Linked DNA regions of Homo sapiens. The protein of the gene in region 2 interacts with the protein of the main gene of each other region in a biochemical or structural test. Each region holds a gene or a part of one and is shown on either strand. Other genes may lie near its edges. The genes, in order: MPP7, SSTR5, FRMPD3, RADIL, HTRA1, MAST2 and LIMK2.

Evidence for each region.
Region 1: the proteins of SSTR5 (region 2) and MPP7 interact in a test that uses a peptide from one of them, tested with the Homo sapiens proteins (one large-scale study listed by IntAct).
Region 3: the proteins of SSTR5 (region 2) and FRMPD3 interact in a test that uses a peptide from one of them, tested with the Homo sapiens proteins (one large-scale study listed by IntAct).
Region 4: the proteins of SSTR5 (region 2) and RADIL interact in a test that uses a peptide from one of them, tested with the Homo sapiens proteins (one large-scale study listed by IntAct).
Region 5: the proteins of SSTR5 (region 2) and HTRA1 interact in a test that uses a peptide from one of them, tested with the Homo sapiens proteins (one large-scale study listed by IntAct).
Region 6: the proteins of SSTR5 (region 2) and MAST2 interact in a test that uses a peptide from one of them, tested with the Homo sapiens proteins (one large-scale study listed by IntAct).
Region 7: the proteins of SSTR5 (region 2) and LIMK2 interact in a test that uses a peptide from one of them, tested with the Homo sapiens proteins (one large-scale study listed by IntAct).

What each region holds. Positions count from the first base shown.
Region 1 is NC_000010.11:28,296,565-28,300,064, forward strand, and holds part of MPP7 (MAGUK p55 subfamily member 7), read right to left. Parts: intron 1-3,500. UniProt on the Homo sapiens protein: Acts as an important adapter that promotes epithelial cell polarity and tight junction formation via its interaction with DLG1. Involved in the assembly of protein complexes at sites of cell-cell contact.
Region 2 is NC_000016.10:1,078,851-1,081,954, reverse strand, and holds the end of SSTR5 (somatostatin receptor type 5), read right to left. Parts: 5' UTR 3,087-3,104; coding exon 1,992-3,086; 3' UTR 501-1,991; downstream 1-500.
Region 3 is NC_000023.11:107,561,152-107,564,651, reverse strand, and holds part of FRMPD3 (FERM and PDZ domain-containing protein 3), read right to left. Parts: intron 1,542-3,500; coding exon 1,452-1,541; intron 1-1,451.
Region 4 is NC_000007.14:4,873,717-4,877,216, forward strand, and holds part of RADIL (ras-associating and dilute domain-containing protein), read right to left. Parts: intron 1-3,500. UniProt on the Homo sapiens protein: Downstream effector of Rap required for cell adhesion and migration of neural crest precursors during development.
Region 5 is NC_000010.11:122,464,553-122,468,052, forward strand, and holds part of HTRA1 (serine protease HTRA1 precursor), read left to right. Parts: intron 1-3,500. UniProt on the Homo sapiens protein: Serine protease with a variety of targets, including extracellular matrix proteins such as fibronectin. HTRA1-generated fibronectin fragments further induce synovial cells to up-regulate MMP1 and MMP3 production.
Region 6 is NC_000001.11:46,030,612-46,033,616, reverse strand, and holds part of MAST2 (microtubule-associated serine/threonine-protein kinase 2), read right to left. Parts: coding exon 2,856-3,005; intron 2,611-2,855; coding exon 2,327-2,610; intron 2,227-2,326; coding exon 2,032-2,226; intron 1,440-2,031; coding exon 1,213-1,439; intron 1,022-1,212; coding exon 899-1,021; intron 1-898. UniProt on the Homo sapiens protein: Appears to link the dystrophin/utrophin network with microtubule filaments via the syntrophins. Phosphorylation of DMD or UTRN may modulate their affinities for associated proteins. Functions in a multi-protein complex in spermatid maturation.
Region 7 is NC_000022.11:31,218,798-31,222,297, reverse strand, and holds part of LIMK2 (LIM domain kinase 2), read right to left. Parts: intron 1-3,500. UniProt on the Homo sapiens protein: Serine/threonine-protein kinase that plays an essential role in the regulation of actin filament dynamics. Acts downstream of several Rho family GTPase signal transduction pathways.

The DNA.
Region 1 (3,500 bases), on a different chromosome or scaffold from region 2:
ATCGCAACTGCTATGTATTTTCATCTCCCTTCTCTAACAATCAGTAACAAGCAACCCAATCAGTAATAAACAAGCCTGACAAATAGCTCCTAAATTCACAGAGAAAAGAATGGTCTCCTCTCTTTCATAAGTAAAGCAAGCTGATAATGTTCTAGTAAATAGAAAGACTAAATGCCTCTTCAAGAAAAAAACATTTATATGCCTGGAAAAAACATCTTGGGTTTTTTTGTTTTTGTTTTTTTACTTAAGTATCTGTTCATAGTAGGTAGCAAATAATCTTTCCACACATATGCACTTTACCAGTTCTTTTAAAGACTCAGTAATCTAAGAAAGCAAAGCATAAGACTATGCTGAAAGAGCTAAGCCGCAGTTTACATAAAATTTAAACAAAACACAAGACATTAAAAAAATTCAACTACTCATAAATAAAGACCAATAAATCTACACTTTGGTCTGGGTTTCTGAACACAGGAAGAATCAGAGGGTTCAATAGGAGAGGTTATTTCTGAAATCGTAGGCATACCTTGAAGATATCACATGTTCCATTCCAGACCACCTTAGTAAAACTAACACTGCAATAAGGTAACAGAAATGTTTCTGCTTTCCAAGTGCATATAGAAGTTATATTTACAGTATACTGTAGTCTATTATGTTGGCAATAGCATTAGCTCTTAATTTTAAAATGCTTTATAATTTTTTTAAAATGCTAGTGATCATCCGAGCCTTCAGGGAGTCATAATCTTTTTGCTGGTGGAGGATTTTGCCTTGATGTTGATGGCTGCTGACTGAACAAGGTGCTGGCTGCTGAAAGATGGATGGCTGTGGCAATTTCTTAAAATAAGAAAACAATAAGGCCGGGCGCTGTGGCTCACGCCTGTAATCCTAACACTTTGGGAGGCTGAGGTGGGTGGACTGCGTGAGCTCAGGAGTTCAAGACCAGCCTGGTCAACAGAGTGAAACCCCATCTCTACTAAAATATAAAAAATTAGCCAGCTGTGGCAGTGTGCACCTGTAATCCCAGCTACTCAGGAGGCTGAGACAGGAGAATCTCTTAAACCTGGGAGGCGGAGGTTGCAGTGAGCCAAGATCGTGCCATTGCACTCCAGCCTGGGCAACAGAGCGAGACTCCGTCTCAAAAAAATAAAAAAAATGAAGTTTGCCACATCAACTCACTCTGCCTTTCAGAAAAGATCTCTCTTTTGGTAGCATTTCACCCACAGTAGAACCTCATTCACAATTGAAGTCAATCCTATCATACCCTGCCACTGCTTTATTAACCAAGTTTACAGAATATTGTAAATCGTTCATTGTCATTTCAACAATGCTCACAGCATCTTCACCAAGAATAGACTCTCTCTCAAGAAGCCACTTTCTTTGCTCATTCAGAAGAAGCAACTCTTCATCCATTCGAGTTTGATAATAAGATTGCAGCAATTCAGTCATATTTTCAGGGTCTACTTCTAATTCTAGTTCTCAGTATACTATTTCCACCACATCTGCAGGTACTTCTTCCACTGAAGTCTTGAACCCCTCAAAGTCATCCATGAGAGCTGGAATCAACTTCTTCTAAATTCCTGTTAATGGTGACATTTTGACCTCCTCCTTTGAATCACAAATGCCCTTAATGGCATCTAGAATTGTGAATCCTTTCCAGGTTTTCAATTTACTTAGCCAAGATCCATCAGAACAATCACTATCTATGGCAGCTATAGCTTTACAAGATGTGCTTCTTAAATAATAACTCTTGAAAGTTGAAATGACTCCTAGATCCATGGGTACAGAGTGGATGTTGTGTTAGCAGGTATGAAAACATTAATTTCCTTGTACATCTCCATCAGAGCTCTTGGGTGACCAGGTGCATTGTCAATGAGCAGCACTTGTTCAATGGTACCCTTTCTTCTGAGCAGTGGGTCTCGACAGTGAGCTTAACAGATTCAGTAAACCACGCCATAAACAGATGTACTGTCATCCAGGCTTTGTCGCTCCATTTATAGAGCACAGGCAGAGTAGATTTTGCATGACGCTTAACAATTTTTGGAATGGTAGATGAGCAGTGGCTTCAACTTAAAGTCACCAGCTGCACTAGCTCCAAACAAAAGAGTCAGCCTGGCCTTTGAGGTGAAGCACTGACTTCCTTCTAGCTAAGAAAGTCCGAGACGGCATCTTCTTCCAATATAAGGCTGTTTCATCTACACTGAAAATCTGTTGTTCAGTGTAGCCACCTTCATCAGTGATCTTAGCTAGATATTCTGGATAACATGCTACAGCTTCTATATCAGCATTTGCTGCTTCACCTTGCACTTTTACATTAGGGAAGCAGCTTCTTTCCTTAAACCTCATGAACCAACCTCTTCTAGCTTCCAACTTTTCTTCTGTAACTTCCTTACCTCTCTCAGCCTTCATCGAATTGAAGAGAGGGTTTTGCTCTGCTGGCTTAAGGGAATGTTGTGGCTGGTCTGATCTTCTATCCAGACCACTAAAACCTTCTCTATATTAGCAATAAGGCTGTTTCACTTTCTTATCATTTGGACGTTCAGCAGAGTAGCACTTTTAGTTTCTTTCAAGAACCTTTCCTTTGCATTCAGAGCTCGCTTGTTTGGTGCAAGAGGCCTAGCTTTTGGCCTGTTTCAGCTTTTGTCATGACCTCCTCACTAAGCTCACTCATTTGTAGCTTTTTGATTTAAAGTGGGAGACACGCGACTCTCCATTCACTTGAATACTTAGATGCCAATGTAGAGTTATTAATTGGCCTAATTTCAATATTGTTGTGTCTCAGGGAATAGGGAGGCCTGGGGAGAGGAAGAGAGTTGGGGAATGGCCAGTTGGTGGAGATATCAGAACATATGTAACATTTATCAGTTAAGTTCACCATATTATATAGGTGCAGTTCATGGAGCCCCAAAACAATTAGAATCGTAACATCAAAGATCACTGACCAGAGATCACCATAACAGACAGAATAACAATGAAAAGTTTGCAATATTGTGAGAATTACCAAAATATGACAGAGACACACAAAATGAACATACACTATTGGAAAAATAGCACCAATCGACTTGCAGGGTTGCCAACGAACCTTCAGTTTGTAAAAAACACAGTATCTTCAGAGAGCAAGCCTGACTAACAATTTCCTTCACTTTAAATTCAAAATGAAGGAATACCCTTTCCTTCCGAATGTATCTCATTTAACAAAATTCAAGACTTTTTTTTTTTTTTTTTGAGACGGAGTCTCGCTCTGTGGCCCAGGCTGGAGTGCAGTGGCACGATCTCAGCTTACTGCAAGCTCTGCCTCTTGGGTTCAGGCCAATTCTCCTGCCTCAGCCTCCCGAGTAGCTGGGATTACAGGCGCCCACCACCACGCCCGGCTAATTTTTTCTATTTTTTAGTAGAGACAGGGTTTCACCGTGTTAGCCAGGATGGTCTCAATCTCCTGACCTTGTGATCCGCCCGCCTCGGCCTCCCAAAGTGCTGGGATTACAGGCGTGAGCCACCATGCCTGG
Region 2 (3,104 bases):
GCCCGGTGTCAAATCAATTGGAGAAATTGATCTTGGCAGGGATTTCCGAGCCATCTGCTCGGTCCCCAAAGCCTTCTGAGAGGGTGAACATGGCACCCAAATCCCTGGGGAGGCAGGTCGAGGGGGGTGCTGCGGTGTGAACGGGCCTCGGTTTCCCCCAGTGCACCCTGGATGCACCCCTCTTTGGTGACTCAAGAGGCAGAGATTTGTGGACCCCCTGCAGAAGCCCACCCTGCCCCGCCCAGAGCTGTCAAGAAGCTGTGAGGGGCAGCTCCAGCCTAAGACCCCAGGCAGCTTCCATCATTTTTCACCCTGTTCACGAATTCCACGCCTCCCGCTTCCTGCTGGGCATTTGGCCGCCCCCGTCCCGGCCTTGTCTGGCTCAGCGGGGCTGGGGCCGGGGGCGGGCCCTGTGTCGGGCCTCGGGGGAGCCCAGGCTCCGCTCACTCTGCGCTGGCTGCACTCGGCTCCAGGGACAATATTTGCTCGGGGAAAGAATCAAACATTTATCCTCGCATTTATTCAGGGGAGCAGTTGTCAAACACGCGTGTCCTCACTGCTTGGATGTTTCCCAGGCCTGGCCTCAGCCTGGGCCTTTCTCCTGCCAGGATTTGTGCCCACTCAGCCGCTCCCTGTGCCCTCCAGGAGGTTGAGGTCCTGCTCTGGGCAGACGGCGGGAGCACGGGTCGGGGCCAGTGCTGGGCAGGGCAGAGGGGTCCCTGAGGCCGAGTGATGCCGCACCCTGGTCCTTCTCCTTCCAGCCTCAGAGCAAGGCCAAGGTGCCCCAGAGACCCCAGCAAGGCTCTCTGGGCCCACGTTCTGGGCCTGGGGCGCCAGGAAAAGCTGGTGTTTGGGGTGGGGGAGGTAGGACAATTCTAGGTGGGAGGCGGCGGGATTCCCAGGGCCTGCCATTTGCGTCACCCGCGCGGCCGCTGCCTCTCAGCAGTGCTGTCTGCTGTGGCCTGGGGAGCAGCTCCCCGCTGCGCCTGGATGACCGTCCTCTGCTCCTGTCCCCGTTCCCTCTCCCGGGCCAGAGCCCCTGCCCCAAAGCAGAAGAGACGGCCGCAGGTTCCCTGTCCTCTCCAAGCCCTGACCCTCAGGTCCTCCTGCAGCAGGAGCACCTCTCCCTAGTGCCCTCAGGCACCCCACACTGGACCCCTCCAGACAGAGCCAATCTCAGCACGGCACAGCCATCTGCACCCCCAGCAGCCTGGAGGGCTGCAGCCTTCACCCCAACCTCAGCCCCCAGCTCTCCTCTGCACCAGCCGCCTCCCCACCTCGCCCCTGGCTAGGCCAGCGCCCAAGCCCCCACACTCCCCTCTCTGAGACAGCAACTGCCGCCCGCAGCCTCCCATGGGGGGTGTCGGGCAGCAGGGTGGGGCCCCCAGGACAGGCGTGACCCTGGCTGACCAGGGGCTGCCCAGCCACACTCCCCTTACACCTGCATCCCCAGAGTCCACACAGTGCAGGGCAAGCGAGGGGCTGGGGCCCTGGCCAGGGACTCCGGGGACCTGAGTCAAGCGCTTTCGGGTGTCTTTAACTTAGCAGAGCAGCCTTGGACGGGGACCCGGTGGCTCGGAGCTGACATGCAGCTGGTGGGCCGGGCAGGTCAGCTCCGCCGTCAGGAAGACCCTCTCGCCTGGCCGGCCTTCTGGAAAAGTCGCTCCCCAGAGGGAAGGCCGGCATGGGCTGGGGCCAGATGGAGGGTGAGGCGGCCCTGAGCACTTGCACGGCATGGCGGAGCCCCCCACCGGTCTGGCCACCTCCCCTACCTCCCGGGAGCCCCCGCTGTGTGGCAGACGGTTAGAGGGGATGGTCGGTCACGGTGGGGAACCTACTGCCCTGTGTCTACCCCAGCCTGGCTTCAGCCAGCTCTGTCCTCACACCACCGCCGGGGAGCATCCTGACTGGCAGGTCATGGGTGGGGGTCACCGCAGTGCAACCTCCGCTCCTGGGGGTGACACGGGGCCGCCCACCCCCCGCCTGCACTCTCACAGCTTGCTGGTCTGCATAAGCCCGTTGGCTGCGGCGCGGTGCGCGGGTGGCGTGGCCTCCTGCTGCTGCCGGATCCTGTCTGGACGCGGCTCCGTGGCGTCAGCGTCCTTGGCACCAGAGCCCTTGCGGAGGCACAGAACCTTCTGGAAGCTCTGGCGGAAGTTGTCAGAGAGGAAGCCGTAGAGGACGGGGTTGGCACAGCTGTTGGCGTAGGAGAGGATGACCACGAAGAAGTAGAGGCCGGCGGAGGCGGGCTCCTGGGGCAGCGCCACGGCCAGGTTGACGATGTTGACGGTGAAGAAGGGCAGCCAACATCCCGCAAACACCAGCACCACCACCAACACCATGCGCGTCACCTTCCGCTCCGAGCGCCGCCGCACGCAGCCCACGCGCACGCCCGCCGCCCTCACCTTCACCACGATGAGCAGGTAGCACAGGCAGATGACCAGCAGCGGCGCGAAGAAGCCCAGCACGGCCGTGTAGATGATGAAGACGGCGCCCCACAGCCCCACGGGCTCCGGCCAGCTGGCGTTGCAGGTACCGCCCTCCTGCACGTCCGCGAACACCAGGAGCGGCAGCGACATGCACAGAGACAGGACCCAGGCCGCGGCGCTCGCCAGCTTGGCCACACGCGGGCGGCGCCAGCGGGCCGAGCTCAGCGGGTGCACCACTGCCAGGTAGCGGTCCACGCTCATGACTGTCAGGCAGAAGACACTGGTGAACTGGTTGACGCCGTCCAGCGTCATGACCAGGCGGCACAGGACGGGGCCGAAGGGCCAGAAGGACGCGGCGTTCTGCGTGGCCAGGAAAGGCAGCCCCAGCATGTACAGGACGTCGGCCACTGCCAGGTTGAGAATGTAGATGTTGGTGACGGTCTTCATCTTGGCGAAGCGCAGCACCACGTAGATGACCAGCGTGTTCCCGCCCAGCCCGGCCGCACACACCAGCAGGTACAGCACGGGCACCAGCACCGCCCGGGCCCCTGCCGAGGGCGCCGGCCCCACCAGCGTCCTGTTGTCACCGCCTCCAGAGGCAGCCCCCGGGGAGGAGGCGTTCCAGCTGGGCGTGGAGGCTGGGAACAGGGGCTCCATGGCGGCAGCCCTGGGGTG
Region 3 (3,500 bases), on a different chromosome or scaffold from region 2:
CAGGTTGAGTAAAGTGCACAGGCAGAAGGGCTAGCTCAAGCAAAACCGTGAAGTAGGTGAGGTTTGTTTGGGGGCCTTTGGAGCACCCTCCCCTTCCAAGCCCCAGGGGCTTTCCATTTGTTGCTGCAGGCCATTTGAGGCCCCCACCCAGTGCTCTGCCTGAGAAGGCGGCATCCTGTGTCTGGTCTTTACCCTCCCCCCACCAACAGCCACTCAAACTTGCACTTCTCACCCAGGCCAAAAACTAAACTGGCACAGTAACTCTGCCTAAGGTGTTGAGGGTTGATTGGGTACTTCATGGCAGCCTCCCTCGTTAAGCAGAGATTTGCCTTTTAATGGGCACTCCAGCAGGTATGGCCAATAGAAATTTTAGCAGTGGTAGGTGGGTGGAAGAAAGATTTGACAGTGTATGAAGGAGGTGGGAGGGGACAGTGGGCTTTCAGTGTTCTGCAAATCCCAGTATGTAAATGGCTACCTCTCGGCCTGAAGGACTGGATTCCCTTAAGAGGTCTTGACAGATTCCTTGGAGCAATCAAGCTTGGGTCGTCTGGAGGCCCATTCCCTGGTATTAGCATCACCCTGAGGAACCTCTTGTGCCTGTCTATAGGCACTTTGATAAGTGGCTTTCCACCGATGTGCCGCACTAGCTGACAATGTGCTCCTGGGAGCAAGACAAGCACCTGGATCCAATTAGCAAGGTGATTTGAATTTCCTTTCACCAGGGTAAACTAGCCTGGGGCACAGTCTTAGGGTGGGACCAGCTGTGCCCTGCCCCAGAGCCTTGTTCCTGCAGCAAAGGTGCTGAGCAAGCAGGGGGAGAAGTAGAAGGACTCAGGAAACCTAGGGTAGGGGACTGTGGGAGTATGTGGAACAAAAATGAAATAGAGCAGGGGTTGCCTAACCATGGCCCATGGGCCAAATACCACCCACCACCTATTTTTTATGGCCCAGGAGCTAAGAATGGTTTTTAGATTTTTTAATGGTAGGGAAAAAAAATCAGAAGAGGCATGTTTTGTGACATGTGAAAAGTACATGAAATTCAAATTTTCGTATCCATAAATAATTATTGGTAAACAGCCACACCCATTTGTTTATGCATTGTCTGTGGCTGCTTTCATAATCTGACAGCAGGGCTGAGTAGTTGCCACAGTTGCCAGTATGGCCCGCCTGCAAAACCTAAAATATTTACTATCTGGCCCTTTATGGAAAAAGTATGCTGCGCCCCCAAATCGAGGAAGAGGAACAAAAAAAGGTCATGGAGGGATACTCAAAACAAATATCTCCTCCCACTTTATCATTTTGGCAGAGGCAGGGCCAGGGAGGTAAGAGGTAGAAGGAGGAGGAAGAGGAACGAAGGCCTTTAGAAATATTTGCCCCTCCTGCCCCCACACCCAAGGACAAGAGCCAACAAGGGGCTCCCTCCCCACATCCCCCAATCCTGCGCCACTGACCAGGCCTACAGTGTTGAACAAAACGCCCGTGAAGGTAGGAAGTTCATTCAGAATTCGTAGATACTGGAGCTTTGCCTGAATTGCAGAGCCCTGTGGAAAAACCCATCCAGAAATATGAGAAGCCTGAGGGGCACAGGAAAAGCAAACCCATGTTCTCAACGAGGAGTCTCAACATCCTAGGACAGGCACCAGTCAGCAAGTGACACTGTGGAGATGTGAAGATGCCCTTCTTAAAACAGCAGCAAGGTTCTAGTTTGGACAGCTCTTCCCTCTAGTATCTCATCTCCCTTTCTAAAATCTTGTCCTACCTCCTGATCTTCATTCCTAAAGTATCCAGCTTACTCATTTTGTTTTTGGTTTAATTCCAACTAACTGACGCCCCACCTAATCCATACCTCTCTCCTGAGATGTTTCAGACCCCTAGAGTCATGTACATGCTGGTCATTCCCCAGCTGGGGGTCCCACTCAATACCGTTCATACTAAGCATTCCTAAGTCCCAAGCCTGCACTTCAGGCATTCCTGGTCTATATCAGCATCCCCTGGGCAATCAAGCCAGAAACCTGTGAGTCACACTGGACTCCTCCTTAATCGCCTCATGTGAGAGCCAGCAGTTACCAGATCATCTGGATACTTACCCCCTAGCTCCTTTTCCAATCTATCCATCCCTCTTCTCTAGCCAGTCATTGCCTTGACATTCCCACCTGTGTCAGGGTGACAGCCAGGTTACCTTCAGGACTGACACTTGTTTCCCTCTTTCCCTCAAGTGCCTCCACACTGTTAGAGGGAGCATCCTAAAACATAAGTTTAATCACATCAGCTCCCTGCTTTAAACCCTTCAATGGCTCCCAGCTGCCTAGAGGATGAAGTACAACCTCTTTCCTTGGCACACAAGGCCCTCCATGAACTGGCTCCTGCCAACCTCTCTGGCCTCTTCTCTTGCCCCTATCTTCACCCCTTGCACACAGCTTGCATTTTCTGTACTTGCTTAGGCTGAATGATTTGCATTTCTGTCCTTGCACCATGGTTTCTCATATCTCTGGGCCTTTGTACAGATGGATCTCTCTGCCTGGGAAACACTTCCTCCCATGACCCATGCCCACGGATTAATCTAGACAAACTCTTATCTGTCTTTCAAGACCCAGCTCTGGCCTTTTCCACCTCCCTCAGGCTGGGCTTAGTGTTCTTCCTCTGTGCTTCCAGAGCACCTGTGCCTAATGCACTGTGTTGGGACTGACTAATGTGTTTCCCCATTAGACTGTGCCTGACTCAGGGGCCAAGACCAGGCCCTCTTCATCTTCATATTTCCAACCCAAGCACTGGGGTGCCTCGAAAAAAATGTTACCTGAGGAGATGGTGGTGAGCACTGATGCTCTCAGTTGAGAAGAAAACAATCTGATTAAATATTCACAGCAAGGTGGGAATGGCTTAACTCTCCGGGGAAATTTGCATCTTAAAAGAGAAGCTAGTTGGTAATGCAAGAAATCTGGAATGGGAGGAATGTATGGGGCGATTGCGTCCCATATGTACATCTGCATGCTGATTCTAGTGCGTCTCACCACTCTCCTGCTTCTAGGGCAGGAAGCACAGGCAGATTGAATCTTACAAAGCTAAGAAGCTGCTGCGGGGCTTGGGAAAGCAGACAGTGGGAGTCCCTCAGAGCACTAGAAAGTGGAGGCAGTAACCTGATCCCTCACCATTCCACCCAGTGACCCATTCTCCAGGTCAGGTCTTGTGCCCCCAACTCTCCCACTTTCCCCTGGGCTGGGGTTTTGTCTCCCAGAATTCCACACCCTAGGACTGATGAATTAGAGGTACAGAGGTACATTTCCTTTTTTTACATTTTTTTTAAATTATTTTTTTAAAAGTAAAGACGCTGTCTCACTATGTTGCCCAGACTGGTCTCAAACTCCTGGGCTCAAGTGATCTTCCTGCTTTGGCCTCCCAAAGCGCTGGGATTACAGGCATGAGCCACCACACCAGCCTAGTCATTTCCATGGAAAACATGTGCCTCCCTAGGGTCCAGTGCTTTCCACATGATACATGCTCAG
Region 4 (3,500 bases), on a different chromosome or scaffold from region 2:
AACAGACACCACAGCAGCCCCATCGGTGCCCAGGGAGGCGCAGGACAGGCGGGCTGCTGGAAGGCGCAGAGCTCACCATCACCGGAGGTATGTAATGGAGAGGACACGGTGGGTGTTAGGAAAGCCTCCCCACCACGATTCTTCCACGTCACTCCAACCTGAGGCAGGCTGGCGCCCACGGCTGCTGGAGAAGCTGCTACAGTGAAAAACCCCTCGGCTTCCCACCTCCTCCCCTTCTCTGGCTCTCAGTCGTTCCCCTTGGAGGGGCGAGGGAGGAATCGCCTAGTGCCGGCTGCAAACTCACTCAGGGGGACGTGGGACACAGCAAAGGCTCAGTGCCCTCCCCGTTCCGTGCCTCCAAGCCAGCAGGAGAGACCTCTCAGAGGCGGGTTCCAGGGATGTGCACAGAGGCCGCCTCCAACCCACGGAAAGGCCGTGCAGGTGTCTCACGCAGGGAACAGTTCCAAGTGGGAGACTGTGTGTGTGAGCACCTGTGTGGACATTTCTCTGTCCAGGTACCCATGTGTCACCACAACAACCGAACACACTCTAGCGCAAAGCTTCTGGGCGCGGGCCTGTTTGAGGCAGGGCTGTCCAGCTACAGTAAGGTCTGTGCGGGGTCATCCCCAGCGGAGCCTGGCTTATCCACGTGGGGACCCCCTGGGTCTAGCCTTCCCCCGGCTCCAGGCAGAGGCTCAATAACCGTTCTGTAATGAGCAGAAGCATGTGTGCATGCCTCTACCAGCTGCTCCATCTCAAACCACCCGGCCGCCTCAGTGAACCTTCTTGGCATGGCTGAGGGTCACAGGAGTCCCTGGGCCACAGCCAGAGAAGGTCAGCAAGGAAGGATGAGTGCCCGAGGCCCAGGGGGCCAGCTCTGGGTAGGTAACACAACCTGCTCCAGCCCAGATGAGTGTGTCAGTATGGCTGGGCAGCCTGATGGACTCTCTTTGGCAGGTTTCGAAAACCGCCACGAGCTTAGACAGGCTGTGAGCAGGGGTGCTTTCGCTCGCCCTGAATAATTTAACAGGAATGATTCCAAAAGAAGTGCATGAGCTTGGCCGGGTGTGGTGGCTCACACCTGTCATCCCAGCACTTTAGGAGGCCAAGGTGGGCAGATCACCTGAGGTCCGGAGTTCGAGACCAGCCTGGCCAACATGGTGAAACCCCATCTCTACTAAAAATACAAAAATTGGCCGGGCGCGGTGGCTCACGCCTGTAATCCCAGCACTTTGGGAGGCCGAGGCGGGCGGATCACAAGGTCAGGAGATGGAGACCATCCTGGCTAACACGGTGAAACCCCGTGTCTACTAAAAATACAAAAAATTAGCCGGGCGTGGTGGCGGGCGCCTGTAGTCCCAGCTACTCGGGAGGCTGAGGCAGGAGAATGGCGTGAACCCGGGAGGCGGAGCTTGCAGTGAGCCGAGATTGTGCCACTGCACTCCAGCCTGGGCGACAGAGCGAGACTCCATCTCCAACAACAACAACAACAACAACAACAACAACAACAACAACAACAACAAAATTAGCCGGGCGTGGTGGTGGTGCATGCCGTAATCCCAGCTATTCAGGAGGCTGAGGCAGGAGAATCGTTTGAACCTGGGAGGCAGAGGTTGCAGTGAGCTGAGATCATGCCATTGCACTCCAGCCTGGGCGACAGAGAGAGACTCCATCTCAAAAAAAAAAAAAGAAGCACGTGAGCCTCAGACAAGCTCCTGTCTCCTGCAACATGCACTCTGGCCCCACCATCCTACACTGGCAGTCGCCTATCACCTGTGAAGACGGCGGGCCTTCCCAGGGCTCCTCCTCGCCCGGTGACACACAACGCAATGGCCTGAGGACAGGCCAGGCTGATCCCCAGCCACACAGCAGCAACCCTGGCCCGTGCTCTGCAGCCCCAAGGTGGCCCTGTCCCACTCGCTTTTTGCCCGCTGCTTGGCAGAGGCAACGCATGGTGGAAGAATGACCGAAATTCTGTGTCTGACATTGAAGAGCCTTTGTTCCCGTGCAGAAAACATCCCACCATGCGCCTCCTCCCTTTCGGGTTTCCTGGCCTCACAGGAGGTCTTTTTGAATCAGGAGGGGAGGGACCCCATCTCTGCCACCGGATCACCGGTCCTTCCAAGGGACCACTGGATCGTGACATGGCAGGGTCAGGATGAAAACCAAATCCCAGAAGTGGCGACCTCTGGGTGGAGGAAGGATCCCCAGGTGCAGGCAATTGGGGGTGCTTGTCTGAGCAGACTTTAAGAGCCATAATTAAAGCAACCACAAGTTACTCTTTTTATTGTTATTTTTTTGAGACAGGGTCTCACTCTGTTGCCTGGGCTAGAGTGCAGTGGTACAATCCTGGCTGCAGCATCTGCGGCTCAAGCCATCTTCCCACCTCAGCCTCCTGAGGAGCTGGGACCATAGGTATGCACCACCATGCCTGGCTAATTTTTTTATTTTTTGTAGAGATGGGGCCTCACTATGTTACCCAGGCTGCTCTCAAACTCCTAGGCTCAAGCGATCCTCCTACCTTGGCCTCTCAAAGTGTTGAGATTACAGGTGTGAGCCACCACACCCGGCCAAATTTATTTTATTTATTTATTTATATTTGAGACTGAGTTTCGTTCTTGTTGCCCAGGCTGGAGAGCAATGGCATGATCTCGGCTCACTGCAACCTCCGCCTCCCAGGTTCAAGCGATTCTCCTGCCTGAGCCTCCTGAGTAGCTGGGATTACAGGCGCCTGCCACCACGCCCGGCTAATTTTTGTATTTTTAGTAGATACGGGGTTTCACCATGTTGGCCAGGCTGGTCTCCAACTCCTGACCTCAGGTGATCCACCTGCGTTGGCCTCCCAAAGTGCTGGGATTACAGGTGTGAGCCACCGCGCCTGGCCAAAATTATTTTTTATGACACACACCTATTAAGATAATCAACTTCTTTCCACCAATTGAATAAATCACCAGACACAGTGGGCCCCAGGCCCCGGGGCTCTCAAACTCTGCGGCAGGCACTCAACGCCACCCGTGCTCTCGGCACTCCTCAGACCGACAATGATCGGCTGCCCGTGGCCAGGCCCTCCTCAGGAAGGCCTCCCACCACCCAGGCACCCACAGACCCGCGGTACGCTGAGTGCACCGTGGTCACCTCTGGAGACCTTGCAACCCGGCAATGCCACGTAGGTTTTGGCCTGGGACAGATTCCTTGATTGTCTTTTCACTTCATTGCCCCAAAAACTCCCCGACAAGGTCGCAGGTGCTAAAGGACTTGGAGGGACCCTGTATTTAACAAGGCGTGCGTGGTTGCTATGGTCAATGAGATGACTGCTGGAGAGCTGGACAATAATCTGATCAGACAAAAGAACAGATGTGGCCTCAAATATTGCAAGAATATATCAGGAGCCTCTGAGGAACACCAGCCAGCCTCCTGCTGCGTAGACAAACTACAACTTCCCAGACAGCTGAGGTGAAAGTGGTGAGTTTAAGAGGAAACCTTTGGGAGGCCAAAGTAGG
Region 5 (3,500 bases), on a different chromosome or scaffold from region 2:
TGAATGAATGAAGACAAACGGGAGGTGCTTGCGATACACAGCCATTCTGTTTTTCCTTAGTGGAAGGCACTGCTTTGCTGCGCCCCCTCTCTGGATCTCACACTCCACCCTTGACTTTTCGGAGGTGTTTCCGAGGACAGGCGCCTGGGAGCCAGCAGACTTCATTCAGTCCAAGCCAGGCTCCAGGACTCAACAGCTGGTGCCCACGGGCAGGTCACTTGACGTCACTGTTAAATGAGGTGAATTGGCTGCCTGCTCTGGCTGGAAGATTGGCGGGAGAGTCACTTTAGCTGCCATGGACATGAGCCTTTTCTAGGGGTGCCACTTGACTAGAGGCCTGGAGTTGGAGCAAGTCATACACGGATCTGGAGACAGAGCTCTCGAGGCAGGAGCGGGTGCTGCGATTTCAAATATTATAAGGTGGCTTTGTCTGGGGCAGAGCATGCCAGGGGATGAGAGGTAGAAATGTCATCAGATCAGGGGTCCCCAGGGAGGTGACTAGCACTTTGGGTCACAGTAGATCTTTGGATAGAGGAACATGTCACCATTCAAAGGAAAGCACTTTCATCTGTAAGCTGTTTATTGAATAGACCTCAGAGAACATCTCTGCTCACCGCTCTGGAAATGAAGGCAAATCATCTATTTCAGAAGTCAATGCACTGGCAGGGTTTGGATGGGAAAGTATACAATTCAGCTAGAGAACAAAGATCTGTCATCTCCAGCTGTACTGGTCAGATGATTACAAAAAAGAAAGGAATTGAAATACTAATAGGGTACTAATAATGAGGGCTAACATATATGTTGTGCTTATTCTATGCCGGGTGCATACTAATTCATTTGATCCTCCGGACAGTCCTATGAGTGAGTGCTGTAGTCTTCCCTGGGTTACAGCTGGGCAGCTAAGTCACAGAGAAGTACCTTGCTCAGGACTGGTGGTCCCACACAACTGGATGGAGAGCCTCGTTCATAACCACCATGCTGTGCTGTTGACAGAGCAACAGAGATTTTAAACCAACCCCAGCTAAGCCCCAGCTAATAGCTGAAATAAACAGGGCTCCAGATGGCTGTGGCTTAGAGATGGAACAGGACAGATCACAGCCTTCACTCTGCAGGCTCAGGAGCCTGAAGACAAGGTTGCCTCCAGTTGCCGTCAGTGCAGCCCTCACTAAAGAAAAGCAAAAAGAGCCGAGGGACTGTAGGAAGGCTGTTTCCAAGCCAGAGATCCAGACAAACTGCTCTTGAAGAGAGAAAGCCCTTCCAGATTCCCCCATGTCCCAAAAGACCAGCCGGGATTCCGGACCTCTGCTAAAACATGGACAAGAAGCCAGGAACGAGACCTGAAACAGACTTCCCAAACAGCAGAAGCCTCATCCATTTCTCCTGCTAGTACATCCTCCAGGAAAGCCCACCCTACTCCATGCAGCAGCCCAGACAAGCTTGGAGGTCTGCAAGCTGCAGGGGTGCCCAGAAACTCCACCCCTGGAGGTTTTTAGGATCGCCTGCTCCTGGTCTCACCCCAGAGCCTCTAAAGGCAGAGGCTGTATGTACATACCTGGTGAAGAACCAAGGGCTTAGATGGTTGCTTTACTTCTTGGAGCCCTGGAATGTTTGTAAAATTTACTTTTTTTTTTGAGACAGTGTCTCGTTCTGTCGCCTACGCTGGAGTGCAGTGGCGCGATCTCGGCTCACTGCAAGCTCCACCTCCCGGGTTCATGCCATTCTCCTGCCTTAGCCTCCAGAGTAGCTGGGACTACAGGCACCCGCCACCACGCCCAGCTAATTTTTTTGTATTTTTTGGTAGAGACGGGGTTTCACCGTGTTAGCCAGGATGGTCTCCATCTCCTGACCTTGTGATCCGCCCGCTTTGGCCTCCCAAAGTGCTGGGATTACAGGAGTGAGCCACTGCACCCGTGCCAAAATGTACTTTATTTAGGTGACTCTTTCGTGGGAACCTCAAACAAGCAATCATTGCTAGCTGAGTGCTGACCCTGTACTGAGCTCTGGGGAGACAGGGTTGAATAAAACAAAGTCACTGCCCACAGGTAACTTATATTCAATACAATGGGGGAAAATACAATCACTGCTTCCCTGGGGTTGTATTTTTCCATTGTTAAAGTGGGCAGTTTGCTCGAGAGTCATTTTCACTATTGGCAATTCAAATACACCTTTTGTCAGTTAAAAAACAAGTGTGCCAGGGACCTGAGCTTCATCTTAGGGCAGGGTGGGTGGAAACATTTGTGAGTCTCCAGCTTTTAGTCACCTGAAACTTGGAAACTTGGAGGTCTTTTGAGCAGTTTATGAGTCTCTGCCTGCTCTGGTCGGCTGCCTTCTTTTATTGCTCTGTTGGTTTTGCTAAAGAGTTAAAATATTAAGGCTTCATAAAATTAGGAAGTTAACAAGCTCAAAAACCAAGTGTTTGAGTTACTTCATTCCACTGAGAGAGCTGTAAATGGGTTGCATTGGAACTTAAAATAACTGCATTGAGTAAGTGATGGTGGCGGGCACCATGAGCTAACTGTGGTCAGAAGCCTGATGGCCTCCGCTTTGGGGCTGGATTCTCCGTTTGGAGCTGTGTGATCCTGGATGAGTTTCATGCCTTGGATTCAGAAATCAGACTTTCCATGAGCTTATATTTCAAGTGAATAAATAGCTCTGGTCAGGCTTAATTTGAAGAAGAAGTAAGCTTGGCAGTGGGTGAGGGTTCCTTGGAAGGCCAACTGGGGCGGAGGGGCTGAGGGCAAGCGGCTCTGGCCCTTCCTGGGGTGTTACCTGACCAGGTAACAGCTCCCTCGACCTCTCGGAGCCTCGGCAGTGAGGGGATTGGGCCAGTTGATCTCTGAGGCTCCTTTTAACTAGAATGGTCTGGGATTTTTCTAAGAAAACAAGTCTTTGAGGAGGTTGTGGTCACCTCATTCCTAATTTAAAGCCTGGGGAGGCTTCCTTATGAGCTACTTCTTTTTCCTAAATTATTGATGGTTAAAGCCAAGGCTGGCATCGAATAGATGTGATCCATCTTGAGCCTGGTTGCTTTGTGTTTCAGCTTTGTACTGGCTGCTGAAGTCCCCGGGAGACCACAGGGGTGACATGTTCATCTCCAAGAGATGAGCTTCCACGAGACTCATACCCCTTGCTCCTTCCCTGGGGCTCCAAGGCCTTTGGGTCATCTGAAGTGAGATACCCTTGTGTCATTTCATCTTTTCCTTCTCCACCTTCTCTGCCGTTAAAAAAAAAAGAAGAAAGAGAAAAATCCTATTAATAGAGAAACCGAGAAGTGTAGCCATTCTGAATGTGTTTCCAAAAGGCTCCTGGAAGTGGCATGGAAGTTACAGTGATTCAGCACTACTTGGTGACGTGTGCCTAGAACCACAGGGGGACATTAGCCAGGACAACACGCCTCAGGACAGAAGTAAGTGGCTGCGAAGAGGCATGTCCATCACTGCCGGAAAGATGCAGAGTTCAGTTTTTGGAGTCAGTGCTGAGAGTTCCATTTCTAAATTCAT
Region 6 (3,005 bases), on a different chromosome or scaffold from region 2:
CAGAGTGGTTTGGGGTAAGAAGGTAGAAAACAGGCTAATCCGTCCCATTCTGCAGCCCTACCCACAGCTCAGAAGGATCCCTGGGCCTTAGTCAGGGAGGGTACTGCCTTGTGGAGAAAACTCTCTGTTGTGCCACATTCAAGTTCTGTGTGTACCTACATCTTTTTTTTTTTTTTTTAAGACAGAGTCTCACTCTGTCACCCAGGCTGGAGTGCAGTGGTGCGATCTCAGCTCACTGCAACCTCTGCCTCCTGGGTTCAAGCACTTCTCCTGCCTCAGCCTCCCAAGTAGCTGGGATTACAGGCATGTGCTACCACACTCGGCTAATTTTTTTTTTTTTTTTTGGAAACAGAGTCTTGCTGTGTCTCCCAAGCTGGAGTGCAGTGGTATGACCTCAGCTCACTGCAAACTGCCTTCCAGGTTCAAGCAATTCTCCTTCCTCAGCCTCCCGAGTAGCCGGGATTACAAGTGCCTACCACCACGCTTGGCTAATTTTTGTTATTTTTAGTAGAGTTTTGCCATGCTGGGCAGGCTGGTCTCAAACTCCTGACCACAGGTGATCCACCCGCCTCGGCCTCCCAAAGTGCTGGGATTACAGGCGTGAGCCACCACACCCAGGCATTTTTTTTTTTTTTTTTTTGTATTTTTAGTAGAGGCAGGGTTTCACCATGTTGGCTAGGCTGGTCTCAAACTTCTGGTCTCAAGTGATCCACCTGCCTCAGCCTCCTAAAGTGTTGGGATTTACAGGCATGAGCCACCGCGCCCGGCCTGTGTGTACCTACATCCATACTCGGTGTAGATGTGTGTGCACCCAACTCACCCACTCCCCTAACTGCCATCACAGACTCACAGGCTGAGGTCATTCAGGGACCATGCAGGCAGCACGCCCAGCACTAACCTTCAGGATCAGCTCTACCACCTCCGTGTGCACCAGGCCATGCACAGGTTCCCCATTGACATGGGTGATGAGGTCACCTTGACGAAGCCCTGCCTCACTGGCCGGACCTCCATCCTCCACGTGCTGTGCCAGGAAGAGAACAGTACTCAGACTGGAGCCTGAACACGAAGTATGGGGCCTGGTTCTGGACATTAAGCTGTGAGCCCCTTCACCACCACCCTTTGACCCCCGAGCAGGGACAGATGGGCTCCACAAAGGGGAAGCTGGAAGGATGATGAAGCAGGGAGACAGCAGGTCTGGATGGTCAGACATACCCACACCATATGGTGCACGGTGTAGACATCGGAGTCACCCATGTAGACGCGAATGGCCCGCAGGGTGAAGCCATACTTCTTGCCAGCTCGGTGGATGATGATGGGAGGCCTCATGCTGCCAAGGGCTGGCAAGAAGTCCCTGCTTGGAGAAGAGTCCCGGGATGATGGGTTGGACGACTGAGAATGTGGGGACATGGGGCTGGCCAACGGGGAGCAGGTGTGGTGTTCTGGAGAAGGAGAAGCCAGGACTTAGTGGGTCAGAGGGCTTTGGCCTGGCCCCTGGTCCAGTCTGTTGATGTCAGCACAACTCTAGTCACAGACAGAGCCTGAGCCTAGGTCCATTTTCCCCACAGCCCCTGACCTGTGAAGCCCTCTCCCGTGTCCAGACCCCAAGAGACGGTGGTGGTGATGAGAAATGGCAGCTAGCATTTATGTGTGTATCAGGGACTATATAAGCTTGTCATATATATTTAAATGTCACAACCTATCAGCTGGCCTCTATTATATCCACATTTTTGGATAAGAAACTTGAGGCTTAGAGAAGTTAAGCAACTTGCTCAAGGTCAAGAGCCTGTTAGTGATGGAGCCAGGATTTGAGTGTGAGCTCTCTACCCCAAAGCCTGCACTTGTGACATGGTGCTGTCCTGCTTTCTGGCACATGTATACACAACCCCAGACACCAATACACACCTTCAGAGACCACAGTCAGATCTGTGCTTAACACACACACACACACCTGCCACGTGCAGAACCCTCCCAAGGCCTAGAGATTACAAGGCCCTTCCTGTGAGTTTTATCCCAGCTCCCCAGGGGCCTCACCCGAAGGAATGAGGAGTGAGAGGGCTGTGGCTGAGGCGGACTTGATCACTTTGTTGACAGGGCGAGCAGTGCGCTTCTCTGTTGAGTCCCCAGAGAGCAGCCGGTGGCGGGCCCTACGCACAGCCAGGTCACTGATGGCCTTGGCTGTGGCTCCCTCAGCCAGCTGTGAGGTCCCACGGCCTCGGGTCTCCATAGCTGTAGGCCCAAGTAAGCAGTGAGACCCGCGATGCCGCTGAGCCTCCCTGCCCTGCAGTATCCTCCAGCTTAGGTCGTTTGGCCGCCCACTGGGCCATACCTGGACTGGAACCACTGCTCCGGCCAACAGCTTCCTCATCCAGCTTTGGCCGCTGCTCCCCTGAGTGTTCAGTGACAGGCCCAGATACCCCCTCTCCAGATGGGGGTGTCAGGACCCATATACCCTCCTGTGGTTGCCTCCTGAGGGTGCTGCTGGCCTCCTCAGGGCCCTCCGGGAACCGAGGCGCATCCAGGAGGCCTGAGCAGCGGCGTCGCACTGTCATTGGAGGGCTTGAGTCACTCTCTGTGTGGGATGACTCAGACACCGACAGCCGCTTCCGTAATCTATGAGACACAAGGCCTGGGGTGAGTGACCCAGGTGGTCCCCCTCCTCCTGCCAGGTCTCCTTAGGGGCACACAAGGGTTATAGTAACAGAACTTTCCTCCGCAGACATTCCTCCAGGAGCCACCCTTGTGAATGCCCCCTCCCTGCCACCTGCACTCCTCCCTGGCATCGGAATCTCTCCCATGATCTGTGACAATGCAGGGATAGCTGTGTCGCCCACCCTGGGTGAACTCTGGGTGCTCACATCTCAGGGGAGCCAATCACCCAGCTCCGGTCTCGGCCTTTGAGCCCTGCCAGGCCATCTGAATGGTCCTCCTTCTCCTCACTCAGGCTGCGCTTGGTCGGGGGTGGTGTCCGGCGCTCCTCGAGCAGTGAGAGCCGCTCCATGCTGCTG
Region 7 (3,500 bases), on a different chromosome or scaffold from region 2:
GGAATTTGAGACCAGCCATGACCAACATGGAGAAACCACATCTCTACCAAAAATACAAAATTAGCCAGGCATGGTGGTGCATGCCTGTAATCCCAGCTACTCAGGAGGCTGAGGCAGGAGAATGGCTTGAACCCGGGAGGCAGAGGTTGCAGTGAGCTGAGATCTCGCCATTGCACTCCAGCCTGGGCAAGAGTGAAACTCCAACTCAAAAAAAAAGAAAAAAGAAAAAAAGTTGTCTACACATCGCTGCCCTCATTTCCTCACTTCCCACTTTCTGCATAATGCACTGCAATCTGGCTTCCACCCCCACCATTTCTCTGAAACTGTCTCACCAAGGTCAACAGTAACAGTAACTGCTTATTGCTAAATTCAATGGACCCGCTTCAGTCATTCTTTCAGCAAATATTTATTGCATGCCAACTATGCATCTGACACTGTGTTGGGGAAAGAGGAGCAAACAAGAGAGAGATTAAACACAAAGCAAATATTAAACAATAATATAATTATTTATTGAGGGCCGGGCGCAGTGGCTCACGCCTGTAATCCCAGCACTTTGGGAGGCTGAGGCAGGTGGATCACAAGGTCAGGAGTTCGAGACCAGCCTGGCCAATATGGTGAAACCTTGTCTCTACTACAAATACAAAAATTAGCCAGGCATGGTGGTGGGCGCCTGTAGTCCCAGCTACTCAGGAGGCTGAGGCAAGAGAATTGCTTGAACCTGGTAGGCGGAGGTTGCAGTGAGCCAAGATCATTCCACTGCATTCCAGCTTGGGCGACAGAGCGAGACTCTGTCTCAAAAAATAATAATTATTATTATTATTTATTTATAATTGGGGCAAGTGGTACGAAGATATCAAGTTCATAACTAGGAAAAGGGCGGGCGGCCAAAGTATTCCTTGAGGAAGTAATTTCCAAGCTGAGCTCTAAAGGATGAATACAAATTAACGGGGCAAAAAAGGGGGGAAGGAAGGCTAACACTGGAGAGGGGGGACATGTGCAAAGGCCCTGGGGCAGGAACAAAAACTTCTCACACATCATTAAAGTTGGCTTTTGCTACCTCCAAAGGGCTAGCAAACCATGTCTGGCCCCTGGTCTGCTACAATCCTTCAATAAACAGTTACTGAAAGAGCAAATGGTCCTTACAATGTGGTCCCAAAGGACCCTTCTCTCTCACCATTCCTTACAAAAGAATGCTCTAGTTACATTTTGACCTATTTTCTATTCCTGCCACTTTTATTCATGTACTTGCATCCTGACATTCACACCTCCAGTTATTCTCTATGTATAAGCTTCTCTATCTTTTCCCTTAATCAAAAAAAAAATTTTTTTTTTTGAAACAGAGTTTTGCTTTTGTTGCCCAGGCTGGAGTGCAATGGCACAATCTCGGCTCACCACAACCTCCGCCTCCCAGGTTCAAGTGATTCTCCTGCCTCAGCCTCCCGAGTATAGCTGGGATTGTGGGCATGCGCCACGACGCCCGGCTAATTTTGTATTTTTAGTAGAGACGGAGTTTCTCCATGTTGGTCAGGCTGGTCTCAAACTCCCAACCTCAGGTGGTCTGCCCACCTCGGCCTCCCAAAGTGCTGGGATTACAGGCGTGAGCCACTGCTCCCGGCCCCTTAATCAAATTTCTATCCTTTCTTTAAAGTTCCCTAAAATCAGGCAGTGTTTGTTTCATTTTGTCTATACCTATTTTACATAATTTGTTATTTAATTACAGTTCACTGCATATGTTTCTCTCTCCTTCAGTCCCTCTCTCTCCACTCTCCTCCCCCACACCCCATTCAGAGAACTAAGGTGTAAGAACTGTATCTTTATTATGTTCTTATCTCCAGGGCCTAACCTTGGGCCTGGTGCAAAACAGACATTCCTTTGTGTGGTGAACCCAACTGAAAATTTGGATCCAACTGCCAGCTATAAAAGCAATTTCCAAAGATAAGTTCCAAAGGTCAGCACAGATGATTCCACTGGAATAACTGTTCTGGCTCCCAGATTACCTATGAGTAGTCTCATGTGGATAAACCTGGCCTCAGTTTACCTGTTATGCATTCACACTGCTTTTCTGTTAGGAAGTACCTGAGCAAAGATATTCACCCAAAGCACACAGCCTCCTACGCCCAGACCCTCTTCAAGAGAACACTCTTGACTTCTTTAGCTCTCTTACAGTCTTAAAAATTCATTGATCTATTCTCTTACCACCTTTATTCTAGGAAATGTAAAAGAAATGTAATACTGTAATGCAAAGTCTTAGGGATTTCTGTGAAGCCTAGTGGAGGATCAATCCAAAGTCCAGTCAGCCTGGGAAGTTCTTTCTTAAGAAAATATCTCATTGTACCAGGCTGTTCATTCTCTCCCTCTATAGTGTTTACCTCTCATATTTGCAGACTTATCAACAGTGGCTACTGATTGTTAAGAGTCCAGAAAAGAGCCGGGCGTGGTGGCTCACGCCTGTAATCCCAGCACTTTGGGAGGCCGAGGCGGGTGGATCACGAGGTCAAGAGATCAAGGCCATCCTGGCTAACACGGTGAAACCCTATCTCTACTAAAAAATACAAAAAATTAGCCGGGCATGGTGATGGGCGCCTGTAGTCCCAGCTACTCGGGAGGCTGAAGCAGGAGAATGGCATGAACCCGGGAGGTGGAGCTTGCAGTGAGCCGAGATCGTGCCACTGCGCTCCAGCTTGGGCGACAGAGCCAGACTCTGTCTCAAAAAAATAAAATAAAATAAAAAAAAGAAGAGTCCAGAAAAGGAGCTTGATTTAAGTAAATGTTCACAGTACCTTCAAACAATAAAGGACCCTTATTAGGTGTTTAATAAACAGAAAACTGTGTTTTCAGTTATTATTGGAATTTGTTGCTTTTAATAAGTGCAACTGTGCAACGTAAGGTGAGCACTGCAACAAATGTCTCATTATAGGGGTTCTCACCTTTAAGACCTTTTCAATCTTGGTATAAAATACATTCACTTTACATTCACTTTATGAATGCTTCTCTCTCCCAACTTAATTAGCAATGTGGCCCTCAAACAAATGTGAATCCACTGGGGCAGGCGCCAAAAAAAAAAGAAGGAAAATAGACTTGCCTAACCACCACAAAGCTACTGAAAGATGGTCCAGGAGGGATTCAAACCCATGCTCAGAGACTACCATGCCAGTCATATTTTTAATACCCTATGCAGCCTCAGACAAGTTGAGACTTGCTCAAGAACACACAGCTATTCAGTGGAAGGGTTGGCCTGGTATCCCAGCTCAGAGCCAATGCAGTCCCCACAATGTTCACCTTAAATTTGGTCTAAGAGCTTGGTTTCTGCAAATGAGTCCTTTTTAGGCTTCAAAATGGTGAGAAATCCTCAAGCACTGAGAGCTCATGAGACTCTAATGCCTAGCTTAAATCAACATCCTATCCTTTCATTTAAAAAAATCTTTGAAGCTTCTCACGTTCCACCAGACAACGAGAACCAGGAACAAAACTCAGCCAATTCAGTGCAGCATAAAACAAGT